3 separate regions of the Homo sapiens genome follow, and regions 2 and 3 are each linked to region 1. The links come from fine-mapping of genetic effects on gene expression. A gene starts in region 1. Each other region holds a variant in brackets. All regions are shown on one strand. Distances are from middle to middle. Region 1 holds the start of TNIP3 (TNFAIP3 interacting protein 3). Region 2 has its middle 90 kb from the start of TNIP3. Region 3 has its middle 55 kb from the start of TNIP3.

The links. PIP is the estimated chance that this variant, and not a neighbour inherited with it, causes the effect. A credible set is the group of variants that fine-mapping cannot tell apart.
Region 2: its variant is the best candidate, but not a certain one, in a credible set for the expression of TNIP3 in whole blood (TOPMed, PIP 0.52).
Region 3: its variant is the best candidate, but not a certain one, in a credible set for the expression of TNIP3 in blood mononuclear cells (TOPMed, PIP 0.57).

What each region holds. Positions count from the first base shown.
Region 1 is chr4:121,162,388-121,166,636 of GRCh38, reverse strand. TNIP3 (TNFAIP3 interacting protein 3) reads left to right here and starts at 2,316. Exons shown (of 11, transcript NM_024873.6): 1 at 2,316-2,577. The coding sequence starts at 2,512.
Region 2 is chr4:121,252,648-121,256,896 of GRCh38, reverse strand. No RefSeq gene overlaps it. Among named protein-coding and RNA genes, the nearest start is that of TNIP3, 90 kb to the right of the region's middle. The variant G/C (reference allele first, on the strand shown) is at 2,332.
Region 3 is chr4:121,217,673-121,221,921 of GRCh38, reverse strand. It overlaps a transcript of TNIP3 not described here. Among named protein-coding and RNA genes, the nearest start is that of TNIP3, 55 kb to the right of the region's middle. The variant A/C (reference allele first, on the strand shown) is at 2,517.

The sequences.
Region 1 (4,249 bases):
TAGTCCTTGTTCCTTTACCACATTTCCCTTTGTTAATTTTAATTTTCTTTCCTCTGTATAATATTTTAGTGACTTCAGAAATGAAGACTCTTCACAACAGCCTTGGAAACATGGAATGACACCTCTGTTTCTCTGAAAGTGATTTCAGCTAGTGATACTTCTCATGAAACAAAGCTTGACTAAAAGCCAGACTCTTAAAATATGTGGCACAATGTGAGAGGGATGGAGGTGAAGTGAACAGAGCATATGTAACAGAAAAGACCCAATTAATTCTTAGGGATGGCATATTGAAAGTCTCATTTTTCTGAAACCAAACTTGTGGCTCTTCAGAAGAGTTATTACTTATTCATAAATAACCATATGGCTCTCTTGAGCTAATAGAAAATCTGTTTGTTGTTTATCTGCATAACAGAAGAGGCAAAGGAATTGTAAAGAAAGAAGCAAAGGTATAGAATTTCCATTTAATAGAAGCCATCACACCTAACAATGTATGTGCATCAGGATATTTTACAGGGGAGACTCAAGAGGCACAATGCCAAGGATGGTATTTCCTGGCAAGAAAATGTTCTTCCCACCCACTTTTCTAGGTCAATGTTACCACATCCCTATACAAATACAAAGTTAAAGCTGAAGAGAACCTTACACTATATAAAACTATGGAGTGTGTATGTGCATGGTATGTTTCAGAAGAAAAATATTCTTACAATAGAGTTTTCTTTTTCTTTTCTGATGAGCAGATTTTAGTGTTGATAAAGTGTCAGTTCAGGAAATCGCTGCTTCTGTACCCTAAAGTCAGATCTTATGTGAGTTATAACTTTTTACTTTCAGAACCCTGAATGAACAATTTGATTCCTACCTGTATTTTTGGATTTTGCCTTAAAGCAGCGTCACTCCCTTTCACTCAAGCGTAGACCCAAACATAACAAGAAACCAGAAGAAAGTAAACACACACACACACACACACACACACACACACAAACTAGCAAAAAGTTCATCGATTTTGTAAATCATTATATAGATATTCATTCATTTATTCATGTAGCAAAATGTGTTGAATGCCTGCTGTGTGCCAGACAGCTCAGTGCCTGGGTGCGTGGACACAGAGATTAACACAAGAACATGGAAATATGTAATCGTAATGCATGATGAAGTGCTCTCCTTAGCTGATTAGAGGAAGTCAAGAGAAGATCAGAAGGAAAGAGAGGCATTGACTTAGGTTTTCCCCGTCATAAGGTTGGATGGAGGGCCCAGAGAGGAGACATCTGAGGTGGCAAGAACAGCATGCACAGAGCTCAGGGGCGTAGAACCATCTCACTCATTTCAGGAAAGGGAGGTCAGTCAGGATGGTTGGAGCACAGGGGAGAGTTGGAGAGTAGGGGGAGATATTCAGGAGAAATGGGAGGGCCAAATGTGGGACACTCAATCACTCTCTTTTGAATTTTAGGAGTTTTAGGCTTTATCCTATATATATGTGAATATCTCGTAGGCAGGTTAATGAAGTTAAATGATTGACCATAAATTCTTTTCTCTTTTTAGTTACACATTCTTTCCTTTTTTGTATTCCTTGCCTCTTTCCTTTTGTTCCAAGTCCAAAATGAGGTCTTCTGTTCCATCGCAGTTCACTTATGCAGCTCCAAGTATCTGCCATTTCCACGCTTTTATCTGTACTACCCAGTAGTGCTCCATTACCTCAAGGCTCCTAAAATGATAACAGTCAAATAATTAAAGTGAAAATGATTCTCCATGAGAAGATTTCACTTCAAATGAGTCATGGAGACAATCTGGACTTGATTTATAGAAAAGACAGACTTAAACTTGAGACAAGTTTAACCTTTCTGCCAATATAGAAGATTAGATTTGCAAACAATGCCCATTTTCTTTACAATGAATTATTTTCCCTTTTATTTCTATAAGAATTAGTGGCACTTATATTATTATGTATTATGAATTATGTATGACTCATTAAGTTCTACCAAGCTACACTCACATTTAGAAGGTATTGCCAGAAAATCTCGCCTTTAGGGAAACCGAGCTGTCAAAAAGTCAACAGTTACCTAATTGCTCTGGGAAATACAATGAATTTATAACAGTTAGGCTACTGAGGAAACACTTGGATTGCCCAGGCTTTCTGTGGTGGAGAACTTCCTCCTCCAGTGGGAGAAACTGCCAGTAAAGGAAGAATGACGATTTACATACTATAGCAAGGCTAATCTGCCCCAGGTCTTAGTCACGGCCTGCCTATTTGAGACATCCTGGGAAATCCCTATTTGGAAGAGAAGAAAAGTTAAAATCCCAGTTGCAGTGCTTATAACTTTATTCTGTGTAATTCCTATCCACAGTCACTTCTGTTCATTTTTAATGAAAACCTATTGCTGTTATTTTCTATTATGAGTTAACGGTGATGTGTGTTTTTTAAATTTTGTATACTTGCTCTCACCCTAAAATATACCTTAAGAGACTTTTCCCCTGTTTTTCTTTCTGCTTTCCAAGACTCCAGGAAAAACAGCTTCCATGGCACATTTTGTACAGGGCACATCTAGAATGATTGCCGCAGAAAGTTCTACGGAGCATAAAGAGGTAAGAACATATTTCTAGGAGATGAGTTGATCACATCTAGCATTGATGGCATTTCTAGTGGTTAATTGTGCACTTATTAATAAGAACAGAAATGGCTAGTTTGCTTTCTTTAGCTAAGATTTGCTCTATATTTTTAACCAAAATTATGTAACATAGAAAAAAATATCTAAGTAACCAGTACATTGCTTTTAACCCACGGGGCTTAAATTCCTTTCAGCCTTCCAGTTCTGTGGGTTCCTTATTTTGTTCTTGATTTTTGTTCTATAAAAATCTTAAAAGAATACTATATTGGTGTAGGTAGAAATAGAACATATTGTAACAATAGAGTATCTGTAGTAATATTTTTATATATTTACAATTGGTACCATAGATTTTGTTCAGCAACAGAGACTACTGCTAATTGAATGAATGAATTCAAATATTTTCTAGTTTTCTTTTACAGATAACCAAGGTATAATGGGAAACTAAATGGAAACTTCTATTCATTTAAGTTTTTAATTTAGTAGCATCAGACCTTGAATATACATTGGTAAGGATGTTATCATAGAGAAAGAAGTGCCCAGATGCTTTGAACAGAAATTCTACTTTATAGGGAATAATTATAGGAAATTATGTATAGGGAATAACTGTTCCGTAAGCAGCCCTTGCTAGAATCAATGACTGAAAATCTTTGTAGTTACTGCAAATCAGATGCCTTCATTAGCAACTGTAAAGCAAAGTAAATACAAATTGAAAAGGTCCCCCAAACCTTTGTATTTGATTAATTTCGCTTTATTTTATAGAAACCTGAGACATATGAACTATAACAAAATGTTGATTAATCTCCAGAGAAAGCTTTGGTGATACATTTGTGACTTACATGCCATTCCTAGTCACTATGTTTTCTATTTTTCCTCCCTCCTATCCTCCCCCACCTATAACTGAATATTACTTATGAATTTCAAAAACTAGTACTCGTGCAGTTACAAATAGAGCCTCTTGCAGATTTGGTATCTAGATTTTCAGTAATTTTTATTTATTAAAGAAAAATCAAGGGTGAAATGTATTATAATTTTCTTCCAGAGAAAATTGTTTATGGGGAAACAAACAAAAAGCACACTGTCTCATTGTTCCACATCTGGGCTCCCAAAGGCAGGGACATACAAATGTTTGCCAATCACGGATTTTTGTCTACATCACAAACAGAGAGGAGACATTTTTGAGGACCCATAATTTATTCCCTAGAATGGGAATATATTGAACTTTAGTATGAATCAAAATTACCTAGGAAATGTATTAGAAATAGAGGTGCCCTGGCTGCTCTTCTAGAAATTCTGATCCATTGTTCAGGATGCTCTATGTTTAGCAAGCTTAACGGTGACTTTGATGTGCTCTTGTGGTGGGAACCACCATTCTAAAATCCAGTCTTACTGTGCCCCTACTTTGCTGATGACCTCAAGATACACTAAGTAGGGTTGGCTCACAGCATTTTCCAGATCAAAGATGCTTAATAGTTAGTCTGTTCTAACCCAGAATGGGTCCAGTTTCTTGGAAGTCTTCCCCAAAAGAAGAAGGTCCAATTACGGGCCCCAACATACTTGACACTTGGGTTTCAGTGTCACTCTTGGTGCTCAGCCAGAACACCTTCTTGAGGTCAAGAGCAAATATAATCATTCAGAATTTATTGACCCAC
Region 2 (4,249 bases), 90 kb before region 1:
AGACCTCTGTATGTGATCCCACTAAAGGCACTGAATAAAGGGAAATGTATAGTAATATTTGAAAAAAAAATCTCTGACCTAGAAAGTCCTTACTTTCAAAGCAATAGGTGTCAGTGACTCATTACTATTGGACTCAAACAGAAGAAAAGGGATGGGGGTTGGGAGGTTCCTATCAAAGCAAAACATAGGACACAGATGAATAAAAATACACACATATATGTTTTATACACATGTTAAACTATCTGCATTTAGGTGGAACTAAAGAGAGTTCAATCATAACTGATTCTACCCTCTTCTGACTCATAAGCAGCATTAAGTAACTTCCTGTACTCTACTGAAATGAGTTTTCTCTCTGCCCACCCCAGCACCCTGTAGCCTGAGAACCTGGCTTCACTTCAGAAGTTGAGTCACTGCCTTTTTCTTAAAGACCATTTCTGCCAACACATTTCTCCATCTAATTTCAGAAAAGAAAGATTCACAAAGTCAAGGAGTCCCATTTGAGTAGTATCTTTTTTTCCCTGGTGCAGCTATAATGCCACCATGCATTTAAGGTCAACATTAAAGAAACAGAAGGGCAATTTTGAGAAGTCATCTAACCAAAGAAAATTAAAATAAAATTCAAATAAAAAGAAAAATATCAATGTTTCAACATCCCTCACAGTTGAATTCAGCTGCAATTTCTAATTTGCAAAAGGAAGTGGTTATTCATCTTAGTTCATAATGCTCCCCAAAGTGCTCAATTTCTCTTGCTTCTCTTAATCACAGACTCTAAAGGGACATGAGAGATGTGGATTAACAATGTGGAGATTTGAAATTGTTTTTAATTTTGGTACTATCAACTAAAATATGTAATCTTTGATTAATTTAAGGAATTTCAAATTGAAAGGAAAGATAATTTTCTTTTCTTTTTCTTTTTCTTTTTTTTTTAAGATGAAGTTTCACTCTTGTTGCCCAGGTTGGAGTACAATGGCATGATCTTGGCTCACTGCAACCTCTGCTTCCCGGGTTCAAGTGATCCACTTGCCTCCGCCTCCTGCATAGCTGGGATTACAGGCACCCGCCACCACACCCGGCTAAGTTTTGTATTTTTAGTAGAGATGGGGTTTCACCATGTTGGCCAGACTGGTCTCGAACTCCTGACTTCAGGTGATCTGCCCACCTCGGCCTCCCAAAGTGCTGGGATTACAGGCGTGAGCCACTGCACATGGCCAATGATTTTCTTAATTCAAGAGCACTATAAATTCATATAGAATTAAGCAATAGACACATTAACAATAAAACATGACTTATCACATGAAGTAAGAAGTTAATTATAGTGAATGTACTCAATTTCAATATTTTTTAAAACTCCAAGAGGAAATTGCTATGTTGAAAATAATAAGTGGTGTACACATGTATGAAAAGGAAGATCATGGGAAATGTGATGTATATGGTTACATCAGATGTACTTCTTTTCCATCCCTGTAGCTATGGTTTGGAGCAGGCTTCAACCAGGTTTGTACAGGCACGACCTGATAGTCTTGCTTTGAGCTATGTCATATACCTCATAGTGTGGCATGGGAAGCCCATGGGAAGCCACTTGGTGCTCACCCACGTGTAACCTGGAAGTACTGAAGAGTTAACACTGATAGAGCATACTTGACAAATGAAGGATGGGGCTGCTGGAAATGCTTCCCCCTTGGATCTTCTAGAGGGACAATTCTGACATTCATTACATAAGGCTCCTCAGAAGGTCCTGCTGGATGGAGCATCAGTTGACCATAGAAGTAACCAACACATGTCAGGCATGGTGGTTCATACCTATAATCGCAACACTTTGGGAGGCTGAGGCAGGTGAATCACTTGATCTCAGGAATTTGAAACCAGCCTGGGAAACATAGTGAATCCCCGTCTCTACAAAAAATACAAAAATTATCCAGGCATGGTGGCATGCGTGTGTAGTCCCAGCTACTCAGGAGGCTGAGGTGGGAGGATCACTTGAGCCCAGAAGGTTGAGGCTGCAGTGGACCAAGGTCATGCCACTGCACTCCAGCCTGGGTGACAGAGTAAGAGCCTGTCTCAAAAAAAAAAAAAAAAAAAAAAAGAAAAGAAAAAGAAAAAAAAAAGGTGACCAACACATTCTTACACTGCCTTTCCCTCCTCTGCTTGACTTCCTGTATCAGCTATCTATTGCCATGCAACAAATTACATAAAAAACTTAGTGATTTAAGACAACAATTTTTTTTTTTTTGAGGCGGAGTCTCTGTCTGTTGCCCAGGCTAAGAGTGCAGTGGCGCGATCTCGGCTCACTGCAACCTCCGCCTGCCGGGTTCACACTATTCTCCTGCCTCA[G/C]CCTCCTGAGTAGCTGGGACTACAGGCACCTGCCACCATGCCCTGCTAATTTTTTTGTATTTTTAGTAGAGATGGGGTTTTACCATGTTAGCCAGGGTGGTCTCGATCTCCTGACCTCGTGATCCGCCTGCCTCGGCCTCCCAAAGTGCTGGGATTACAGGCATGAGCCACTGCGCCCGGCCTAAGACAACAAACATTTATTCTCACAGTCTCTGTGGTCAACTTCAGAAGCAGCTTGGCTGAGTGGTTCTGTCTGTCTCAGGGTCTCTCATGAGGATGCATTCCAAATGTGAGCTAGGAGTGCATTCATCATAAGGCTTGGCTGGGGCTGGAGGACCCACTTCTAAAGTTACTTACAGGGATGTGAGCAGGAGCACTCAGTTTCTCACTACATGGACTGCTGCTCACGAGGTGGCAGCCAGCTTTCCCCAGAGTGAGCGATGTAACAGAGGGCAAAGGAGAGTGCAAGCAGGAAGCCACACTATCTTTAATGACCTAGTTTCAGAAGGGACATACTGTCACTTGTACTGTATGCTACTGGTGACATAGATCACCCCAGGTTCAATGCAGGAGGGGATTACACAAGAGTGTGAATACTAGGAGGCAGGGAACTAGGAGGCCATCTTGCAGGTGAGGCACACTTTCTCTATGCCTCACTCATGATCCCTGGGGTCATTTCAGAAAAAACACTTTTCTATTGACAGCACATTTGTTAAATTCCCCCAAATTCAGATATTGAAATCCTAATCCCCAAGTGGTGGTATCTGGAGGTGAAGGGTTTCACCCTTGGAAAGTAATTAACCATGAGGTTGGAGCTCTTGTGATGGGATTAGTACTCTTATAAGAAGAGACACAAGAGAGTTTGCTTCTTCTCTGTCCCCACCAGGTGAAGATACAGCAAGAAGGCATCTACTCGCAAACCAAGAAGAAGGCCCTCACCAGGAACCGAGTTACTTGCATCTTCATCTTGAACTTCCTGGTCTCCAGAAGAGTGAGAAATAAGTTTCTGTTCTTGACATCACCTATTTCATGTTATTTTTGTTACAGCAACTCAAGTTGACTAAGATACACTTGTATGAAACTCTTTTATCACAGGCTCTAGACTTGGATAAAAACTATGATAACATGGTGAATGATTTTCTCTCTGTGACTTTTCTAACGAGGTAGATCTATACGTGTATATGTTGATATATGGAAATATCTTTCCAAAAGATGTTATTTTGTGCAAAAAGTAAGTTGCAGAACTGTTCTATTGTATGCATAAAACCAAAACATTATAAAGGAAACTTAATAGTGGTAATTTCAGGGGGGAAGGAGATGAGGAAAGACTTTCTAATTTTCATTTTATTATTCTCAGCACTACTTGAATTTTTGAAATATATTTATGTATTCCTTTAAACATAATTTGATTTTTTGGGGTGGTGAGATTGTGGGTCACTTTAAATTTCTCTATAATTATCTATACACAAAAGTATCATAGTGTTTTTAAAAATAACAATTTTAACAGTCAAAGAGACCCTATTTTGTCAGGAACTATTAAAGATGTTCAAGAAATGGTTTAGTTAAAACAGTACATGAGGCCCCTATGTTTAATCTTTCCAGGTAGTGAGCTTCTGTGTTAACCCAATTATTTCACACAACAGAAGCAGGGAGACATTCCAAACTGCAAGAATCCATGCCCAAAGACAGCACACTTCTGTCAATCAGTCATTGTGCTGGCTGGGAGTCGATTCTCTTAACATTACGTTAAACCCGGGAGCACATGGAAGAATTACCTGGAACCATGCTCCAGAATTTTGCTCTTGTCCTCTGTTACTTTTCATGTGTTTCAAATTAACATAAACCCCTCAACAATACAGCACCAAGATAATGTGAATCCTGATAAAAAGCAATTGGCAATTGGTTGCTACTATTTTCT
Region 3 (4,249 bases), 55 kb before region 1:
ATGAAGAAGAAATGCAGGTGTTCTGATGTGATTGAGCTGTAGAGAACCTGTGGTGGCAAAAAACTTTACTGCTATAAAACAAAAAGACTTCTTAGAAGGAAATAGGTGATGAAAGTCCCCTGATTTGACACCTTTCTCAGAAATATGAAGTGGAAAAAAAAATAGTTACAGCTCTGTTGGGTAGTTCTTTCTTTTGGTTTAGCCAAACGATGTGCAGCCAAAAATCTCTTTCTTGTTCTCAATTTCCCTTGAGCCATTACTGTAAATGAGAGTGGTGTGTAATTTTCCTCTCCTCCAATTTCTTCCACACTGTAATCAAAGGTCCTTAAGTACCTGTTGGGTATAGGAATCTTATTTGCTAGAGGAAATAAATGAATTAAAATGTGTAACATATCCTTTTTTTGAATATCATTATCATATTCTTAACAACATTGAGCATTTGCCTCATTTTGCATAGAAATTATCTGAAATCTTTTATTGCTGTTTTAGCTTTGTGCTTGTAAATTTAGGTTAGTTTTATAGTCACGTGATCTGCTTTACTGTTCCTGTTTCTAGGCTAAGTGAATTCCTTTTTCTTTTTTAATATTTATGGAGATAAAATGACTGATAGGGAACTTTAAGGATAAAACTTCTTGAACATACAAACTGGCTATTTTATATATTAAGAGTGATTTAGACTGAATATTAAAGATATTATTAGAAAAACATAACCAAGGTTTTATACTAAAAATGTTATAGTTCTTTACATTTCTTTCTTACCAATAATAGCAAGGATCTCAAAATGTTGTCCATTATCATCCACATATTGGCAACAAATATCTCAAGCTTTGGAAACTGCAAAAGGCCATGAGAATTGCTAACAGTAAACCAAAAATTTTTAAAGAGCATTATGTTTTATTTGTTCTCATTGATTTTTTTAAACAGAATTTTAATACCTTTGGGGAGGATATGTCTTCACTTACTCACCACAGCCCCTACCACCACTTGTCACCAATTTATGTCAGCTTCCTGACTCTGCAGGCATTTTCCCACTCTTGACTGAACGTATTGCTCTTTTTCATCCCCTACTCAGCCAAATCACAGCAGGAACGAATCCTGCTGTCCATTCGCTCAGTAAAACACACAGACTGGCACTTAAGGCACGCTGAATGCTCACAGCTAAGGACATTCACTTATTTCTGACTCTAAAAGTTAAGTGGTACGTTTACCCAGGATCAGCTTTGTTTATTCCCCCACGCTATTTATGACAATTTTACTTTTTTGCCATTATATATTTAAATAAAATGTATATAAGCCGATGATACATGAGTACCAAAAGGTTAAAAAAAAACATTGTTTCAGTACAAGCTAGTTTTAGCATCTTGGAAACATCTAGTAAAGGTTAAGTTACCAAATTTGAATTGGATGATGGTGAGGGCAAATACAAAAAAAAAGTAGTTAATTATCATAAAAACCTAAAAGCATTCTGTTTTCAGATTGCTTTATGTCTTAAAATTTTTGCTCCCTTGTAAAGAAACCAAAACTAGAATTCACCAAGGATTTATTGTGGGCCAGAAGACACATGTGGACAACCACTAATAGATCTCTCCTTAGAAAACAGAGCCTAGCAATGATGTTCACCTATGTATTTTCAGTGACATTAAATTAATATGGTATTAATGTATTATTCTTCATGAGTCCCAGCTTTAACTAATATTTTGATTAACTGACTGCCTACCTGTAGGTCTCTTATGTGATCAATAAGAAAGCTTTTCATGTATTCTTAAATGGTATAATGTCATTTCTAAAAAATTAATATAAGTACTTTTATATCTGTAAGCATGTGAATGTACACATATGTATGGTTTTCAGCCTATTACTTTATAGAATCTTTATTATTTATTATATATGGATACAAGGATAGTAATTTTCATGATGGTTTAGTACCTGATGAGGACATTTTATCCTAAATGTATTGAACCTGGTTAACATTTAATGTTAATTTAGTAAAGATAGTGAAATGAAACAGTTTCCAGGAAGGTATTATGTGTTGTAAATTGTATGACCCAGAAAGAAACACATTTTATTTAAATAAATATGCCTTGTCAGCTTCTAGTCCTTTCTACCTTAAGTTTTCATGCATTTGATTGTATGTGAATTACATTTGGACACCTCTCAATGTATAACATAGACTTGAGCAACATAAATGTAAACAATAGTATAAGAATTCGTTGGTAATTTTTTATATAACATTTTCAAGGTCTGTAAAACCTATGTGAGTAAACTTTGAGTATGACTGGTAATACGAACACCCTGCCCTTGAATCTGACTTTAGAAATCCAAGTATATTAAAAGCTGTCACCAGAAATGTCCAAAAGCTCATAAAACTTGGTTAACTTCCAAAAGTAAGTTTATCCTTCAAAGTTGGGTTATTTTGGAACTATGGATTGTGTAAACTTCTGCTTAAACAATCAAACAGCTTATGATCTTCACTGATGTGCTGAAATGCATCCAAGAACAGAGGACATCTTTCGGCT[A/C]AGTGAAACAGAAAGCAACAGCTGCTTCTTTAGCAGTATAGGAATTCCTTAAAAAAGAGGAAAAGGAGGAGGAGGGAGGAAAAAGGAGAAGTAATCAAAAGATGGAAACAAAGACATGTGTTTGCTTTTAGCTTCAGAGGATGCTCAGCCAGTTGGATACTCTTACTTCTATGGGTTTTTTGTTTGTTTGTTTGTTTGTTTGTTTGTAATGGAGTTTCATTCTTGTTGCCCAGGCTGGAGAGCAATGGTGTGATCTCGGCTCACTGCAACCTCCGCCTCCTTGGTTCAAGTGATTCTCCTGCCTCAGCCTCCTGAGTAGCTGGGATTACAGGTGCACACCACCACACCCAGCTAATTTTTGTATTTTTAGTAGAGACACCATTTCTCCATTTTGGTCAGGCTGGTCTCGAACTCCTGACCTCAGGTGATCCACCTGCCTCGGCCTCCCAAAGTTCTAGGATTACAGGCGTGAGCCACCATGGCTGGCCACTTCTGTGGTTTTTAATTGTAAATCTTTTGGTTCTCAGAAATTTTATGTGGCTATAGCTAGGGAAAGTAGTGCACACCTGTAGTCCCAGCTACTCAAGAGGCTGAGGGAGGAGAATTGCTTGAGCCCAGGAGTCCCAGCTACTCAGGATCCTGAGGGAGGGGAATTGCTTGAGCCCAAGAGTTCAGAACTATAGTGCACTGTAATGGTGCCTGTGAACAGCCACTGAACTCTAGCTTGGGTAATATAGTGAGACATCGTCTCAAAAGAAAGAGAGACAGAGAGAGGGAGAGGGAGAAGAAGAGGGACGGGGAGAAGGAGGAAGGAAGGGAGGGAGGCAGAAAGGAAGGAAGCAAGGAAGGAAAGAAGGAAGGAAGGAAGGGAGGGAGGGAGGAAGGAAGGAAAATAAACTATTGGAAATTATAATTATGCCTGGGATATTGACTTTTCTGATTGTCACTGGTTAATATTTTTACTTCCTGGATAGAATAATAACAAATGTAAAATTCTAGCCTAGGAAAAGGCAATTTAGGAAGGAAATACAATGTTCAGTAAACTAATTAATGTCTTTGAGACCATTTCCATCTTGTCTGTTTCCAGTGCCTCTAAGATATTATTTGTAAATCTTAAACTATACAATATTAAATCTGGAGATTTCCCTTTGCACATGCCATTTTTGGGGTGTTTACTACCAGAGTTCAAATAATACAATGACATTGCCTAAGAAATATAGTGTTATGATGTTGTATCTGTAATGTAAAAATTTTGTAGGTTAGTTTTAAAATATATTAGTATTAAAATATATCAGTATCTAATTTTATTTTATTTCAAACTTAAAATTTCCTCTGTATAATTTTCAGTTATGAACAACAATGGAAGATCATGACTAGGAGTCAGATGGTTTGGTGTTTAATCCTAGATCAGTCATTAATTAGCCAAGTCATTTGTTTTCTCTGGAGTTCTGTTTCCTCTACTGTAAAATGATGGCATTATAATTCTTAGCGTGTTCTCCACAGTGTCAGATTCTATCATTCCCTGATACTCCAGGACTCCATGTGTAATTTCGCATATGCTTGGAAATTAGCATTTTAACGGTAATTTTTGAAATAGTGAAAGAATATAAGACATTTTAAAAACCTTACTACAAATTTCTTTATTAGTTAAATATTTAAGCCTTCATGTTTCAGAAATGGACACTTATTGCAGTCACTCTATCAGATGGTTATCACTTGGTTTCCTCTTCAAC